Linked DNA regions of Homo sapiens. The protein of the gene in region 2 purifies or fractionates together with the protein of the main gene of each other region. This does not show direct contact. Each region holds a gene or a part of one and is shown on either strand. Other genes may lie near its edges.

Region 1 (3,500 bases), on a different chromosome or scaffold from region 2:
TTGGCCAGGGTTGTCTTGAACTCCTGACCTCAGGTGATCCACCTGCCTCGGCCTCCCAAAGTGCTGGGATTACCATCATGAGCCACTGCGCCCCACAGCATTTGTTTAAATACTGGTGTCTTAGATTGATCTCTAGTTGTTTATGAAATTCTCAAATCTTAGGGATGGGTCCTGGGGAGGCCTGCCTCATTCTGAAAAAACCTTTCCTGTGGAAAGTTCTTCCTCTCATCAGCTTCTCTGCTGTCCAGGTGGTCTGGCCCAGCCTTTGCGCTCTGCCAGCCCCGCTTCCACACCCATGCCTACTGTCTTCCTTGCTGAGCCTCGCTCGCCCAGGCTCCTGAGTGCTCTGTTTCACCTTTGCTGGTTGCCTGGGCCTGCTCCCTGTCCTGGCCTCATGTTGTGTCCTTTCCAACCCTTCCCTCCTCCTGAGCCCACCCTGCTTCCCAGCCCACTGGCAAGCCCTTAGCCCCGTCATACGCTGGCCTGTGTTGCCCTGTTGTTCTTTGAGCTGCCTTCCTCCATGGGAGGGCACTTAGAAAACTGGTCCTTGTTCCTTTGTCTGTTCACTTTCCTATTCACATATTAATTTAGCAAACTCTTAGGGAGCATTACAAAATGCCAGGTACTGTGCCAGGTGCTGGGGATACTAATGTAAATAAAATGGATCCCTGTTCCCAAAAGCTCATAGTCTAGTCATAGATCCATAGATCCACATGCACCCAGAGTTGGAAGTGCTGTGGTGACAATATGCAAGGACTTGGGAGACCAGAGGAGGAGTCCACCCGCTGCCTCAGGGATTTGGGGAAGGTTTGATCAGGGAAGGATGTCTGAGTGGGGTGGGGCCTTGAAGGGTGAGAAAAAGTCTGTGTCCAGTTTCATTCTGAGGTGGTTGCTCTGTATGTGGTCCAGGGTCTCCTGATGTGTGTGTGTGTGTCCCTGAATCTTTGAAGGTGAAGAGTATGTACACGTGTGTGGGAGGGATGACTGCCTGGCATCCCAATGGAGACAGAACATGTCCATGGTCTTAAGAGACTAGGAGCTCCCCAAGGACAGGCCTGTGCCTCCTTCATCAGACCAGAGGCAGCGCCAAGTCCTGCATTGGCCAAGGGCTCTGTACTTCAAGAGACCTGCCTAGGCTTTTGAATCCTGGTTCTGTGTCTGGACAAATCCCCAGTCTTCTCTTAACTAGTTTCCTTATCAGTAAAATAGAGATTGTACCAAGCAGCCCAGGCATTGCCTCTTTCTGGAAGCCTTCCTTGACAAGAGTCTGGTGGGCAGTGGGGTGTTCTTGGAGACCTGACTGGATGGGATAGACGGCCATGCCACCTCTGGATCTCACACAGACTTCTTGTGCACTTGTTTCTCTCTCTATATATATACTATATATATAGTAAGAGATAGGAGGCTGGGCGTGCTGGGTCATGCCTGTAATCCCAGCACTTTGGGAGGCTGAGGTCAGGAATTCGAGACCAGCCTGGCCAACACGGTGAAAAACCATCTCTACTAAAAATACAATAATTAGCTGGGTGTGGTGGCGTGCATCTGTAATCCCAGCTACTTAGGAGGCTGAGGCACAAGAATCGCTTAAACCCAGGAGGCAGACGTTGCAGTGAACCAAGATGGCACCGCTGCACTGCAGCCTGGGCAACAGAGCAAGACTCCATCTCAAACAAAAACAAAAACAAAAAAAAGACAGAGTCTTACTACATTGCCCATGCTGGTCTCAAACTCATGGGCTCAGGTGATCCTCCCACCTCAGCCTCCTGTGTAGCTGGGACTGCGGGCGCATTCCACCATGCCTAGCTTTGTTTCTTCCTGTACTTAATTCACTCGTTTTCATCCCTGCTCCTCTCTCTAGACTATGGGCCCCTGAGGCCAGGGACTGTAGGCTTCTCTGGTTAGTACCCCTGGTGTCCACTCCAGTGTTTGACACAAAGTAGGACTCAGAGCGTGTCCTCTGAAGGCAGAGCTCTGCTCACTGAGCACTTCCCATGTGGCAGACCTGTGTGTGTCACTTTCTGTACATTAGGAACACAGGCAAGGCAGCTGTGGTGCCAAGCAGATGCCCGGGAGCCAAACTGGGGAAGTTCCTGTTTGTTTCTCATCAGTAAAATGAGAGTAACTTGCCACAGCTGAGATCTGAGCCCAGGCAGTTTGGGTACCTCATCACATTGTTTGCAAGGATTGAGTTAGTATACATAAGGCAACTAGCACCTAGCACAGTGCCTGGAACAGAGTAGCTGCTCAATTAAGGTTAGCTGTTATTATCATTAATGAAAATTAAACAAGATAGCTTATGTCTGGCCCATCCATGGCCAGACACGGTATCACATGCCATGTCTCCTCTGTCAGAATGGCTGGTGGGATTTGGGAGGCCGAGGCGGGCAGATTGCCTGAGCTCAGGAGTTTGAGACTGGGCCTGGGCAATATAGTGAAACCCTGTCTCTGCTAAAATACACAAAATGAGCCAGACGTGGCGGTGTGCACCTGTAGTCCCAGCTACTTGGGAGGCTGAGACAGGAGAATTGCTTGAACCCGGGAGGAAAAGGTTGCAGTGCACCGAGATCATGCCACTGCAGTCTAGCCTGGGCGACAGAGTGAGACTCTGTCTCCAGAAAAAAAAAAAAAAGAATGGCTGGTGGGAAAGAGGCAGTGATTTCCTCTCCTCCATTTGCTCTTCCATTTCTCAAAACCATCCTGTCTTCTCCCCCTTTACTTGTAACTGCCCCAGCCACCTCTCACTCCATGACCTCCACAGAGTCTTTTTTTTTTTCTTTCTCTTTGAGACAGAGTCTCGCTCTGTCGCCCAGGCTGGAGTGCAGTGGCGCGATCCCGGCTCACTGCAAGCTCCGCCTCCTGGGTTCACGCCATCCTCCTGCCTCAGCCTCCTGAGTAGCTGGGACTACAGGTGCTCGCCACCACGCCCAGCTAATTTTTTTTATTTTTAGTAGAGATGGGATTTCACCATGTTAGCCAGGATGGTCTCGATCTCCTGACCTCGTGATCTGCCCTCCTCGGCCTCCCAAAGTGCTGGGATTACAGGTGTGAGCCACCACACCCGGCGGCCTCCACAGTCTTTAACTGGCCCTCTTTGCCCAGTAGGATCAGCCCTGGCCAGAGCCATCTCACCCAGCCACTTCCCCTGGCACCGGAACCCCCATGGAGCTCCCTCTGGGCCCCTGCAGCTCTGCTGGGGCAACTGCACAGCCTGGCACGCTCTCCCTAGAGTCCAGGGTCTCATTGCCATCCAGCCATCTCCTGTCTCCACTGACTGGCCTTGCCCCACCCTCAGCTCTGTCATCAGCACTCACCTGAGGGGTGCTCGGGGTTCCCATCTGACATGGGGGAGCCCTCTCCTGGGTGCCGGTGGTCCAAGTGGGCGCTCTTGTAGTGGGCCTGGATGGCGGCGGTCCCACCTTGCTCGGCCTCCCCACCGGGGCACTCCGCCTCGCCCTGGGCGGCCTTCCCGTTCTTCCGCCGCCTGGGCTGGTACTTGTAGT
Region 2 (3,500 bases):
GGGGGAGAAGAAGGAAGAAAACAAAGAATTAGGATCCAATGATAAAAACTGCCAGTATTTTGTACATCTGAATTTGGTCCCCATCAACAATACGAATCTAGCTCCCTCGCTGAGCTGTATTTTATAAATTTAGTTCACTTTAAGAGAAACTCATTAGCTTCTACCAGAAGCATCATTATGATCGGTTACTTAGAAAGCAAGCAAAACACTAACCTTAACCTTAAATTAATCCATTCACTACACTTCCTAGCGTTCCATTCTTGGATGAAACAGAACAAAAGAACACAACGTGAAGCAGCAGCAGCTGCCACAGCAGGCAAGCAGATGTATGAATATAGCCAAGCAGCTCATCTGCTGAACTAAAGCCCTGGAAATGCTCTGGTTACCAACAGCCCGCCCTTAACCTTATTCCCCTGAGCGGTGTAATCAGATGAGCAACAGCAGCACCAAGGGCTGTGAAAAGCTCAAGTTAGTTAAATTGACTAGAGGATTATACAAATACCAAAATCGGTCATTTCATACAAATTAGATATTTACAGCCCACATACAACTATGTAACTGCAACAGAGGCATCTAACAAGAAAGTGTTCATAATGATGTTGAAAAGCAACCTTGAGAACAGTACAATAAATTCATAATTTCATTATGTTTAATGGCAGAAATATACAAGATTCAGAAAGAAACTAAAAGAAAAGCTTTCATTGTCCAAGACGACCAATTTCACTCATGGCTCTGAGCCTACCATGGTCCCAGTCTGCACTGACACAGAGCAGCCCAATCACCAGGCTCATTATTCACCCGCAGGCATGCTGGGCTCTGGTGGACCAGAATCCCACGTGACCACTCAGAGAAAACTAGTTGAGTGGATACTTTGTGGACACCAACTATTCTCATAACTAGAAATACAACTTTCTCCAAAACTGAAAATTATTTTTACAGAATAAAGTTCAAAATATGCTCTCCTCACCATTGCCTTAAGTCCTTTTGGGACAAGGCAGGACCTAAGCAGGAAGGGAGACAAGTTGGCAGGCACTTGTGTTCGCACCCTACGTGCTTCCAGCGCACTGTGTACACTATGTAACATGCTGCATCTTATTCAAACTCTTCCTAACAGATCCTGTGTCAGATTAAAATAACTAATTTAAAGAATGCGTTGACAATCTAAACAGGAAAGTGTTTTTGTTGAACACTAATTAAATCAACGGCCTAATAAAGACCTAATTCATATAGAGAAAATGACTGAAATCTTAAACATCTTTGGAATTTAACTCATTTTTTTCTCTTTTATAAGGACATTAAGCATTGTGTGATACTAGCTCACTTGAAAAAAACAATATCTTGTTGAAGAATTTCCAAAGTGATGATAAAAACAGGCTCAGTCATAAATTCTACTGACACCCTTCCATAAGAGCATGGGAATGAACAATGGGCTAACCAACACTCCTGAGAACTTACCAGTAAGACACATAAAAATTCTGTTTCTGCCTGCCGTATTCTAACACATTCCTAACAAGGGGAGAATTTTGCTTACAGAAAATGTAAACAACATTCCTGTTCACTGTCAGAACTACAGACATAACACCTGAGAGGGTCTCCAGGCCTGTAGTTTTCAGGTGACAGCTGTCAACTAAAGTCAAAGGTCTCTTCACTCTGCCGCTAACTGCCATGAATTTTCTGATCTACTTTCTCCAAATACAGAGGTCAGATGGGTGAAAATAAGGTGAGCATGAAAGCTATTTTACTGAAAACACGCTGCTTTACTATACAACTATTTTAAAATCCAAAATAAAGAGAAGTAGACATCTCCAGTGCCAGTTGCAACAAATATTCTTAAATACACTCCTAAGAAGGCTAAGCAGTCAGTCATCATTTATTCAAGGCTCATTCTAACTTTCAAAGAAATAAATACTGGAATGGACTTGATAATAGCTTAAACCAGCCATGCAGCCCAACCACTTACCAAAATAACCTTTCAAATTAGCTTAAGGAAAGTAACGTCTACATATGTGTCCTGGGGAGCAGCTTCATCCTCCAGGGTCCGCCAACTGTTATGGGAAGAAATGCTACTGACTCGATGGGGCTCCAGGCCAGCTCCAGGTAAAAGTGAGCCCAGAGGGAGTGGATGGCTTAGCCCACTGGTGACCTTCTCTTGCAAGCCCACTGAGCTCAGAGGCAGAGGCAGAGTCAGATCAAGCTTGGAGAAGTGGCGATGAAGTTGGTGCTAACTTTTTATCAGCTTAAGATTCAGAAGAGGGACAAGTTGCCTATGCGCATGAGTAGGGAAAAACAGCCCTGCCTGAGAGTACCCATACTGATCCTTGGCTGTGCTCCTCTTCCTGTTCCCTACGCCCTTCTACTAAGTGTCCATCTCCCAGACGCTTGAAAAACGCCAGCATTATATGGTATCAACTAAGCATGTCGCTCGGCACAACTACAACCATGCTCAGGTAAGGTCCAGGCAGAGAAGTTCAAAAACTGGCTTTGCAGTCTGCCATTAGTGACCGCTCACTGGGACAGCCACCAACGCCTTCCTGCCCCTTTTCTGACCTCAAGACCCAGCTGGCAACTATGCCAGGAATCCATCTGGTAGCTGCATTTCATATTTCTGATTTGAGATAATCTAATTAATTTGTTTTGGTCCTTTTTTTAAATTTGATCAAGACCATCTGAATGCCCACTTTCCCAAGTCGCAGCTGCATTGTATAATTTTGTGTTTCTATAAAAGATATTCATTCAAAGCCCTATTTTGAAAGCTTCCCTCTCGTCTACACTCAATATCTAGATTTTCTGTGTCTAGATGAACACTGTTCAATGGGCCACAAATGCGAGCTATTACATGTAATTTTTAGTTTTCTAGTAGCTACATTTTAATAGTAGACCAAAAGAGTGAAATCCATTTTACCAATTTCTATTTAAACCAATAAATGCATAATACTGTCATTTCAACAGGTAATCAATATAAAAAAATGAATAAGCTAGTTTACGTATTTTGGTATTGAGTCTTTGAAACCCAGTATGTAATTTACACTTACAGTACATCTCAATTCCTATTAGCTACATTTCAAGTGAAAAAATGGACATATGGGGCTGTGGCTTCCATACTGGACAGCATAAAGTATTTAAAAAGAAGAAACAGAAATAACAAATTAGCAATGAAATTTTTTAAAGTCTCATAATTATCACCTGGGTAATAAACATTCAAGTTGCATTTATGTTTTATTTGGTGTTACATAAAAATTAACTCTCAAATCACAATTATTTATTCAAAATGTATTTACTGAGCACCTACTATGATCCAGGCACTAGTCTAAGAGCTGGAGAGAGATCTGTGAATAAAACAAAATTCCCTCTTGTCCTCATGGAGCTTATATATCTGTAAATGATGCATCTCTTAAATAAGAACTAAGATTCAGGGCTTATGTTATTAAAAATATAGGTTGCCATTTTACAAAATACTCCTCGGTAACTTCTGATGAGGAATAGTCTAACTAAATGTGAGA

What was found.
Region 1: the proteins of CHD7 (region 2) and SOX10 purify together in Homo sapiens (affinity purification with western blotting; one study listed by BioGRID). This does not show direct contact.

The regions. Positions count from the first base shown.
Region 1 is NC_000022.11:37,974,556-37,978,055, forward strand, and holds part of SOX10 (transcription factor SOX-10), read right to left. Parts: coding exon 3,312-3,500; intron 1-3,311. UniProt on the Homo sapiens protein: Transcription factor that plays a central role in developing and mature glia.
Region 2 is NC_000008.11:60,737,740-60,741,239, reverse strand, and holds part of CHD7 (chromodomain-helicase-DNA-binding protein 7), read right to left. Parts: intron 1-3,500. UniProt on the Homo sapiens protein: ATP-dependent chromatin-remodeling factor, slides nucleosomes along DNA; nucleosome sliding requires ATP. Probable transcription regulator. May be involved in the in 45S precursor rRNA production.